3 linked regions of the Homo sapiens genome follow. The protein of the gene in region 3 purifies or fractionates together with the protein of the main gene of each other region. This does not show direct contact. Each region holds a gene or a part of one and is shown on either strand. Other genes may lie near its edges.

The links.
Region 1: the proteins of DUS4L (region 3) and GCA purify together in Homo sapiens (affinity purification with mass spectrometry; 2 studies listed by BioGRID and IntAct, with this or other methods). This does not show direct contact.
Region 2: the proteins of DUS4L (region 3) and ULBP2 purify together in Homo sapiens (affinity purification with mass spectrometry; one large-scale study listed by BioGRID and IntAct). This does not show direct contact.

What each region holds. Positions count from the first base shown.
Region 1 is NC_000002.12:162,350,504-162,354,167, reverse strand, and holds part of GCA (grancalcin), read right to left. Parts: intron 1,831-3,664; coding exon 1,761-1,830; intron 757-1,760; exon of another isoform or gene 435-756; intron 1-434. UniProt on the Homo sapiens protein: Calcium-binding protein that may play a role in the adhesion of neutrophils to fibronectin. May play a role in the formation of focal adhesions.
Region 2 is NC_000006.12:149,945,012-149,947,536, reverse strand, and holds part of ULBP2 (UL16-binding protein 2 preproprotein), read right to left. Parts: intron 2,229-2,525; coding exon 1,965-2,228; intron 1,166-1,964; coding exon 884-1,165; intron 218-883; coding exon 108-217; 3' UTR 86-107; exon of another isoform or gene 81-85; intron 1-80. UniProt on the Homo sapiens protein: Binds and activates the KLRK1/NKG2D receptor, mediating natural killer cell cytotoxicity.
Region 3 is NC_000007.14:107,576,394-107,579,084, forward strand, and holds the end of DUS4L (tRNA-dihydrouridine(20a/20b) synthase [NAD(P)+]-like), read left to right. Parts: coding exon 1-199; intron 200-919; coding exon 920-1,167; 3' UTR 1,168-2,130; downstream 2,131-2,691. Other genes in the region: DUS4L-BCAP29 protein, read left to right, coding at 1-199. UniProt on the Homo sapiens protein: Catalyzes the synthesis of dihydrouridine, a modified base found in the D-loop of most tRNAs.

The sequences.
Region 1 (3,664 bases), on a different chromosome or scaffold from region 3:
ATCAGATAACTGAGAAAAGCACCTAACATGAAAGACAACCAAAACAAGCAAAATGAGGAGAAAAAACAATCTGGAAAAAACAAAGGTTATATAGGAAGAAAAAACTTTAAAAATATATTAATAGTCTCAGAGAGATAAGGGACAATATCACATTCATGAAAATAGAACAGAAGCTCTTGGATATTAATGAAAAGCAGAAATGAAAGACTCAATAGAAGGTTTAGGAAATAAAGTTGAGGAAAATTCCCAAAAAGTTCAGCAAAAAAAAATGATAGGAGGAAAAAGATGATAAAAGTAGAAAACCCAGTGAAAACAAAAAGCATTCCAAGAAACAGAAAATATCATTGAAGAAAACGTCCTACATCTAAAGCAAAGGAGTTTCCAGGCTGAGAATACCATCTGAGTTCCCCACACAACACAACTAGGTACTTTACCATCAAATCGCAGAATACTAAAGACAAAGATCTCACAAGTTTCCAGAGAGGAATAACAAATCACATCACATCCAGGCAGGAAAGAGAAAGATAATGCAACAAGGGACGCTAGAAACAATGGAGCAATACCTTTAAAATTCTACTTGAGAATCATTTGTAACCTAGAATTCTATACCTGGCCAATCAATTCTGAAGGTAGAATGAAAGCATTTTTAGATACATAAGCTCTCAAAAATTTATCTCCCATATATTCTTTTGTTTGTTTTTGAGATGATGTCTCACTCTGTCACCAGGCTGGAGTGCAGTGGCCCAATCTCAGCTCACTGGAACCTCTGCCTCCTGGGTTCAAGTAATTCTCCTGCCTCAGTCTCCCGAGTAGCTGGGACTACAGGTGCGTGCCACCACGCCCAGTTAATTTTTGTATTTTTAGTAGAGACGGGGTTTCACCATGGTGGCCAGGGTGCTCTCGATCTCTTAACCTCATGATTCGCCCACCTCAGCCTCCCAAAGTGCTGGGATTGCAGGCATGAGCCACGGCGCCTGGCCGTATTTTTTTTTTATATTAAGAAGCTGCTTAACTATACATTTCACTAAAATAAGATAATGAATTTTTTAAAAGAGGACAACAAGAGATGGAGTAAAAAGGAGATCTAACTCAAGAGAAACGGGGAAACCAGCTTCAGAATGATGGTGAAAGAATCCCAGTATGACAGCTACACATAAAAAACTGCATATCCCAGAGTTCTAGGATAATACCTGACAACTAGTGATTTCAAGAAAAGCAAAACATTATATAAAAAGGAAAAGTAATCATACATTATCATAAGATACAGCTATAAGCAGCATTCAGATAGTAAAAATAAGGTAAAGACTAACATACCTAACAAAAGTTACTATATATTATAACTACATTGGAAGGACAGGAGGATGGGAAATGTTCCTCTGTGGAGTGCAGAGACAGGGGAGAGTTTAAGGTTAAAATAAAGTGAAATCCTCATCTTTCATAGCAGGATATCAATAGATAATCATAAAATCCAAAAATCAATCGTGAAAAAAATATTCTATCTTGAAATCTGGAAGCAAATTTCAAAAGAATCAGATTTTTAAAAGTCAAAAGAAGTGTCCTCTATGAGCAGTTAATGTTAAGGAGACAGGAATACACAATGAACAGTTATTTTCATAACGAGTTTTACAGTTATTTGACTCCTTAAACTATGTGCATGTATAACTGTGATAATTTTTTAAACATTTTAATTACAGGGACAAAAAAAGTAAGAAAATAAACTTCCTATTATAATTTCAACAAAAGGGGAAAAAAGATCTCACGAGAGTAAGTTCCATTAATTCCAGACTGTGTCAAACATCTCTGAAGTTCTTCAGCATCCACTTCACCATCCTGTTTAAAAATAATTATGACCTAATTTAATGTGCAGTTGTATAAAAGCATATTAAAATGTCAATTGACTGTTCTAGGCCAATCAAGACATATGCATTCTTTGAAACATTACTCTATAATTAACTACAAAATTCTAGAGATAATTACTGACAACAAAGGCATATTACAAAATATCATACCACAGAAATAATTTCTTCCACTTCTGAAGAATAGCACAATTACCCTGTTCTATAATGGTTCAAGACAATCTCATAAGAGTCATTGTACTTCTATTTTAAACAGTTAGAAAAACAGTTAAACAGTTAGAAAAATGCCTAAAATGTGTTCAGAAAAGTCTCGAAAACATCCCCACTCATGCTGTTTTGGGAGGAGATTATTTATAAATAATACTGAAGCTTTAACTGGAAGGGGAAAATATATTTTCCCCCACCATTACCCCTAGCAAAATTCTAGAGTCCCCCTGTATCTTGCTGCTATTCTTCTGATTACTGCCCAAACAAGTCTTGCCTGAACTTACTACAGAAAATAAAGTTTTAAAATGCAAACAAGAAATCACAATGGAAATGAAATAGGTTGAGTATTCTCATTATGATTTAGTACCTCATCCTGTTTTTGACAAAAATAAGTAATTCCTTTGGAACCATCACAAACATTGGCACAAATGCAAAATGTAGCTATGATGAAGGATCAAGGAGGCAAATTTAAAACCTACTCTTCATAAGAGATCCAAGAAACAACAAAACAAAAAACTTTTCTAAACTACTTCTAAGAAATATTATTAACACTCACATTCTAATGGATTTTTGGCAAAAGAACCCCTTACAAAACTGCAGCTGTTCTAATAGAAATTACAAAATACTAAGCAGCATTCTTCCCTTAACTGAATTAGGTAGCATTAGCGGTAGAAAGCTGAATGTCCTAATTAAATTACAAGAGCATCAGGTAGAGAATTAACAAAAATCAATTGCCCTTCGTTAGGCAGCAAGATTTTAAAATGATATCCAACTTCAAGTCCTATTTGTTCAGTTACTCAATTTGAGTCTCCACTTACTTATCTATAATACAAAGGTAGCTGTGTCATGCCCACATCACAGTTGCTGTGTGGAAAAGTAGAAGCAGTGTGCATACAAAAGTTAAAGTTGTTGGTATTACTGTGATGCATGTGTCTGTATGTATGAAGACAGAAACCAGAATTTCCCCAAATTAATTGATGATTTAATCCTTACTGTTTAGAATACTTCATCCTATAAATAAGAACACTGCAGAAACCTTTAATCAGGTGTTTTTCATAGAGCATTATTAATTATGAGGCCCATCAAAAAAGGATATGGCTGTAGATGTAAGTTCAGTAGTTGGGTTCCAGGAGCAGTATACCTAAGTCAGATGTTGCACCTGATCCCTCAAAGCTAGGTAGAACTCAATATATGAAAAAATACAGTCTAAATATTTAGACTAAAAATTGAAAATGGGATAGTTAATTCATCCATACGAAACATTTATCAAATGTTTATATATTCCTAATATCTACCTGTCAAGTAGGGAAAATATGACCAGAACCCTGTCTTTATGGAGTTTATTTATTCAAAAGCACAAGACTGGGAAATTTAAGGAAAGTATCAAATAGTTCAAACATAGCGAATTTATTGCTGACAATTAAAATGCTGAAATAGTTCAGCAGTCAAAAAGAGTTTCCAAATATATGTCCAGTTCATATACTTTAAGTTGTAATTTTATATGATGAATGTATTATATAGTCAAACAGAGATAATAGAATTATTCTCAGTATAATACTACTTATTCCCAGTATAATCCTTTAAAATGGCAATGGTATAAT
Region 2 (2,525 bases), on a different chromosome or scaffold from region 3:
GGGCGGGACTCCGGGAATTCTCTTTCCCCATCCTGCCTCCTCACCCACCTGCTCCTTGCTCCACTTCCAATTCTGCCCACAGTACCTGTCACTCTAAAGGACTCTCCTCAGATGCCAGGGAGGATGAAGCAGGGGAGGATGATGAGGAGGCAGCAAAGGATGAGGGTGGTGGCTGTGGCCCTGAGTTGGGTTGTGCCTGAGGACATGGCGAGTGGTGCTGAAATGGAAACACAAAAGTGACAACCCTTGTCCAGGCCCCAAATCTGAGGAGACACCTCCTCAGTTCCTGCCACCCTAGGTCATCCTGGAAGGCAAAAGTTTTGTCCTCTCCCCCCTGGTGTGGGGCAGCCAGTATGACAGGTCCTGGCTTAGGAAGGGAGACGGGGTGAGTCTTGTCCTCAGGGAGCTCACACAGCTGCTGAGGGAAGCAAGGTGACAACACACCCCACCCTCCTGCTGTGGGGGAAGAGGAGGTGATGCCCCAGAGTTGGGGAGGGGAGGATCTCTGGGCTGGCGTTGGAAGTGGTTTTGATGGATTTCCAGAACCAGACCAGGGAAAGGAAAGGAAAAGTGATTCTCAAAAGAGGAAACACTAAGGAAAAAGGTCTGAAAACAGTGACACCTGCAGTTTCAAGGCTGGTGAGAAATCCACAGGGCGGGGAGCAGGAGCAAGTGCAGTGAGGAATAGGAGTCAGGAGGGAGAAGGAAGAGGACGGTGGGAGAGCACAGGCATGCCAGTAACCCCAGGAGGAGCGCCCCACGAGGAGGTCATTTTAACGTGAATGTGTATACTGGGATGATTGAAGCTGAACTCAAGAACTAACTTCTTGAGGTCACCATTTCTGATCACATTTGAGATCCCCGTTTCTTTTTCTCCTGTTACCTCCTGCACTTGGCTCCAGGGTGCTGTCCATGCCCATCAAGAAGTCCTCAAGCCATCCTATACAGTCTCCCATTGAGAAGTAATGGAAGGACATGGCCACAACCTTGTCATTCTCCCACTTTTCTTTCATCTTTCTGGCTCCAGGATGAACCGTTGTCCACATTCTCTTCTCTGAGTCAAAGAGGAGGAAGATCTGCCCATCGAAACTGAACTGCCAAGATCCACTGCTGTGTCCTTCAGCTTTCTGCTCACAAGACATCCTTGCCTGCAGGGTGAGGGGTTCTGCCCCCATCAGAGAGAGATCAGCTCTGATCTTGACAAATTTTGCACCCCCATCCTGTTCCCCTTACAATTTGCTGGCCTTACTCTCTCTGCTACATCTTGGCCTTGCCTCTAGACTCTTGAGGGGTATGATGACCTTCCCATTTGTATTTTTTTTTTTTTTTTGAGAAAGGGTCTCGCTCTGTCACCCAGGCTGGATGGAGTGCAGTGGCGCGATCTCGGCTCACTCAGCCTCCTAAGTAGCTGGGACTACAGGCGCCCGCCACCATACCCGGCTAATTTTTTGTATTTTTAGTACAGACAGGGTTTCACTGTGTTAACCAGGATGGTCTCGATCTCTTAACCTCGTGATCCGCCTGCCTCAGCCTCCCAAAATGCTGGGATTACAGGCTTGAGCCACTGCACCTGGCTTTTTTTTTTTTTTTTTTTTTGAGACAAAGTCTCACTCTGTTGCCCAGGCTGGAGTGCAGTGGCACCACCTCGGCTCACTGCAGCGTCTGCCTGCCGGGTTCAAGGGATCCTCCTGCCTCAGCCTCCCAAGTTGCTGGGATTACAGGCATGCGCCACCATGCCTGGCTAATTTTTGCATTTTTGGTAGAGACAGTGTTTCACCATGTTGGTCAGGCTGGTCTCGAATTCCTGACCTTGTGATCGGCCCACCTCTACCTCACAAAGTGCTGGGACTACAGGCGTGAGCCACCGTGCCCAGGACCCTTTTGTATTTTTACATGAAAACTATAAATGCCTCTAACCTACCACTGTATCTGTTCCCTGCTGTCCTGGGCCATCTGAAACTTACCCTTGGGTGTGTAATTCTCCAGCTGAATGTCACGCAGTTGCTCTGTAAGTATGTCCACCACCTCTCTCAGTACTGGGTTCTGTGCTTTCCAGGCCGTTGTGACATTTAGTTTCTTCCCCAGGGGACTGACAGGTGTGACTGTCTTGTTGCCACAGTCATAGTGAAGAAAAGTCTTTTCATCCACCTGGCCTTGAACCGCACACCACCGTGGTCCAGGTCTGAACTTAGGGATGACGGTGATGTCATAGCAAAGAGAGTGAGGGTCTGTGGAGAAAGGCAGGTGAGGGGTGGGTGGGGAGGAAAAGACCCCTAGTTAGCCCCCCTCCACGCTGTGTCAATAAGAGGATGCCTCTGGCAGGCTGGGCTGGCCCAGGAAGGAGTGCCCCCTCCAGAACTGTGGTGTCTACAAGTTTAAGGCGAGTGCTCGCCCCTTGCATGAGGACAAGGAGGAGGAGGAGGAGGAAGTCTCTGTCTGCTGAGAAACCACATGTCCCCAGACATGTCCCACTGCCCCTCTGCCCACATCAGTCAACACGTGACCTTGCTAGAAAGGTGCCAGGC
Region 3 (2,691 bases):
GATCTTTGTCAAAAGGCTGAAGCAACAGGAGTTTCATGGATTACAGTCCATGGAAGAACTGCTGAAGAAAGACATCAGCCAGTGCACTATGATTCCATTAAAATAATTAAGGAAAATATGTCTATACCTGTAATTGCTAATGGAGACATCAGAAGCTTAAAGGAAGCAGAAAATGTGTGGCGGATTACTGGGACAGATGGTAAGAAATAAGTACTTGGGTTCTTTTAATTGGGGGGGGAAGAAATGAGAGTGGGGAAGTAATGTTAATTTGATTTTCATTTGTTTTGTTTAACATTAAGCCATATTTTCCCATTGTACTGTTTTAAGCTAAGCGATTTATTAAAATGATGTTAAGTTTTCTACCTAGAAAAACATGGATTATCTTAACTGGGATAAATTAATTCAGTTACTTTTCTGACACCATCATATCTAGTGACCAGTGAAGAATTTTCCAGATAGCCTACTAGTAAAATAAAGCACCTAGAAATAAGAGTAAGTGAACTCGAGAATGATAAGAGCTAAAGGAATCCCAGAACTGCTATGCAGTTTCATTATTCCCTTAAATTATTGGCATGCCAAGCCCTATAATTGCTAGATGGGAGAATATAGATAAACTGAACTTTAAGCAGCCCAATTTATGACAATCCAGATTTACCCTAAAGAAAAACTAAAGACTAATGGTTTAATGTAGAAATCTTTAAAAAATAAAGATTTCTGTACGTACATTTAAACTTTCCTGGTTTACAAAAGGTACCAAAATTAATTCTTTTGTAATCGGATTAAACATATTAATGCAATAAAGACATTACAAAACCTTGTGATAATACTTTTTAAAAATATACTGTTTGCTTCATTGAGCTTGAACTAATAACCAGGGGTTCTTAATGTATGGACAAATATGGTGTGCTTTAATTTGTAGGTGTGATGGTTGCAAGAGGACTCTTAGCAAACCCGGCCATGTTTGCTGGATATGAGGAAACCCCACTGAAATGCATCTGGGACTGGGTTGACATTGCTCTTGAACTCGGGACTCCTTACATGTGTTTCCATCAACATTTAATGTACATGATGGAAAAGATAACTTCAAGGCAGGAAAAAAGGGTATTTAATGCTCTGTCAAGCACATCAGCAATCATAGATTACCTTACAGACCATTATGGCATTTGACTAGACTTCCCAAATAATTTTAATATATACTTTTAGACCCACAGTGAAACCACAGAAGGTCATATTTTGTACCTTAAACCAGTAGCTCTCAAATTTTAGTATAAAAACAATTCCTGGGAGCGTTTTTTAAAAATCAGTTGTAGACACCACCCTCAGAGATTCTGATTAGGTAGATCTGGAGTAGACCCAGAAATACACAGTTTAAAGAAAACTCCCAGTGGTTCAAACATCCTGATCATCCTAGGCAAACATTGACAAATACTGCTCTGAATCCTGTTCTATAGATATTGGGGGGATGGGTAGAGTGGGAATTTTTTCCTAATCATGTTTTTAACATTTTAAAATAAAATTTAATACTAAGAAATTATGGCTTATAGTATCTATAAATTAACAAGAAGTATGCAGGTGCAAAAAAGTGGTGGAACAAATACCAACATCCATCCAAAATGAAAAAGAACAGGAAATTCTGAATAGAATTGCACTCAGAACTTATATTAAAAATTCCATTTGGTTAATGACATTAAATTTGGTACATTTCAAAACTTCTAGGTCCTCCAAAGATTGAAAGCTTAATAATCTCCTACCTAAAAAGATAAAATTAATTGCAATCTACCATATCTTAAGTATAGGAAATTTGGTGTCCAACCTGGAGATGATTATATATTTGAAATATTTCCTAGAGAATAGTAACCAGGTTTTGTTTTTAACTTTAAAACCTAATTACTTTTGTGCCTCTCAGCCGTTGATTGTAACTTTAAAGTCCCATGGTTTTGGAGTGTTATTAATAGATTTTGTTATCGGTGGGCATGCACTGCAAGAATTAAGTATCTCAGACTGAAATAAAACCGTTCATAATTAAAGTATTATTTTGTTTTGCCAACATGAAAACTGTTATAAGGAAACAATTATGTAAAACTGTTTAATTCACGTTTGGGAATATTGAATGAATCCATTTTAACATAAGCACTGTGGTGCCATCTTTTTTCTCAGTACATTCTGTTTTCACTTTTCAGTTAATGCATTTTTTTTTTTAAAGATAACTCGCTGTTTCATTTTCTATGAATACTGTACAAAATAGGGAGGTATGGTCAGAACTCTGAATTGAATTACCCTAGTGTTGTGAGCACAGCATCATCACTAGAGTAATGTGCTCGGTGTTTGGAAGGAACCAGCGTGGATGGGCAAGAAGTTCTAACACTTTTGATTAAAAGTAACTTCCTGGCCGGGCGCGGTGGCTCACGCCTGTGATCCCAGCACTTTGGGAGGCCAAGACGGGCAGATCACGAGGTCAGGAGATCAAGACCATCCTGGATAACACGGTGAAACCCCGTCTCTACTAAAAATACAAAAATTAGCTGGGCGTGGTGGCGGGCGCCTATAGTCCCAGCTACTCAGGAGGCTGAGGCAGGAGAATGGTGTGAACCTGGGAGGTGGAGCTTGCAGTGAGCTGAGATTGCGCCACTGCACTCCTGCCTGGGCAACAGAGCAAGACTCTGTCTCAAAAAAAAAAAAAAAAAAGTAACT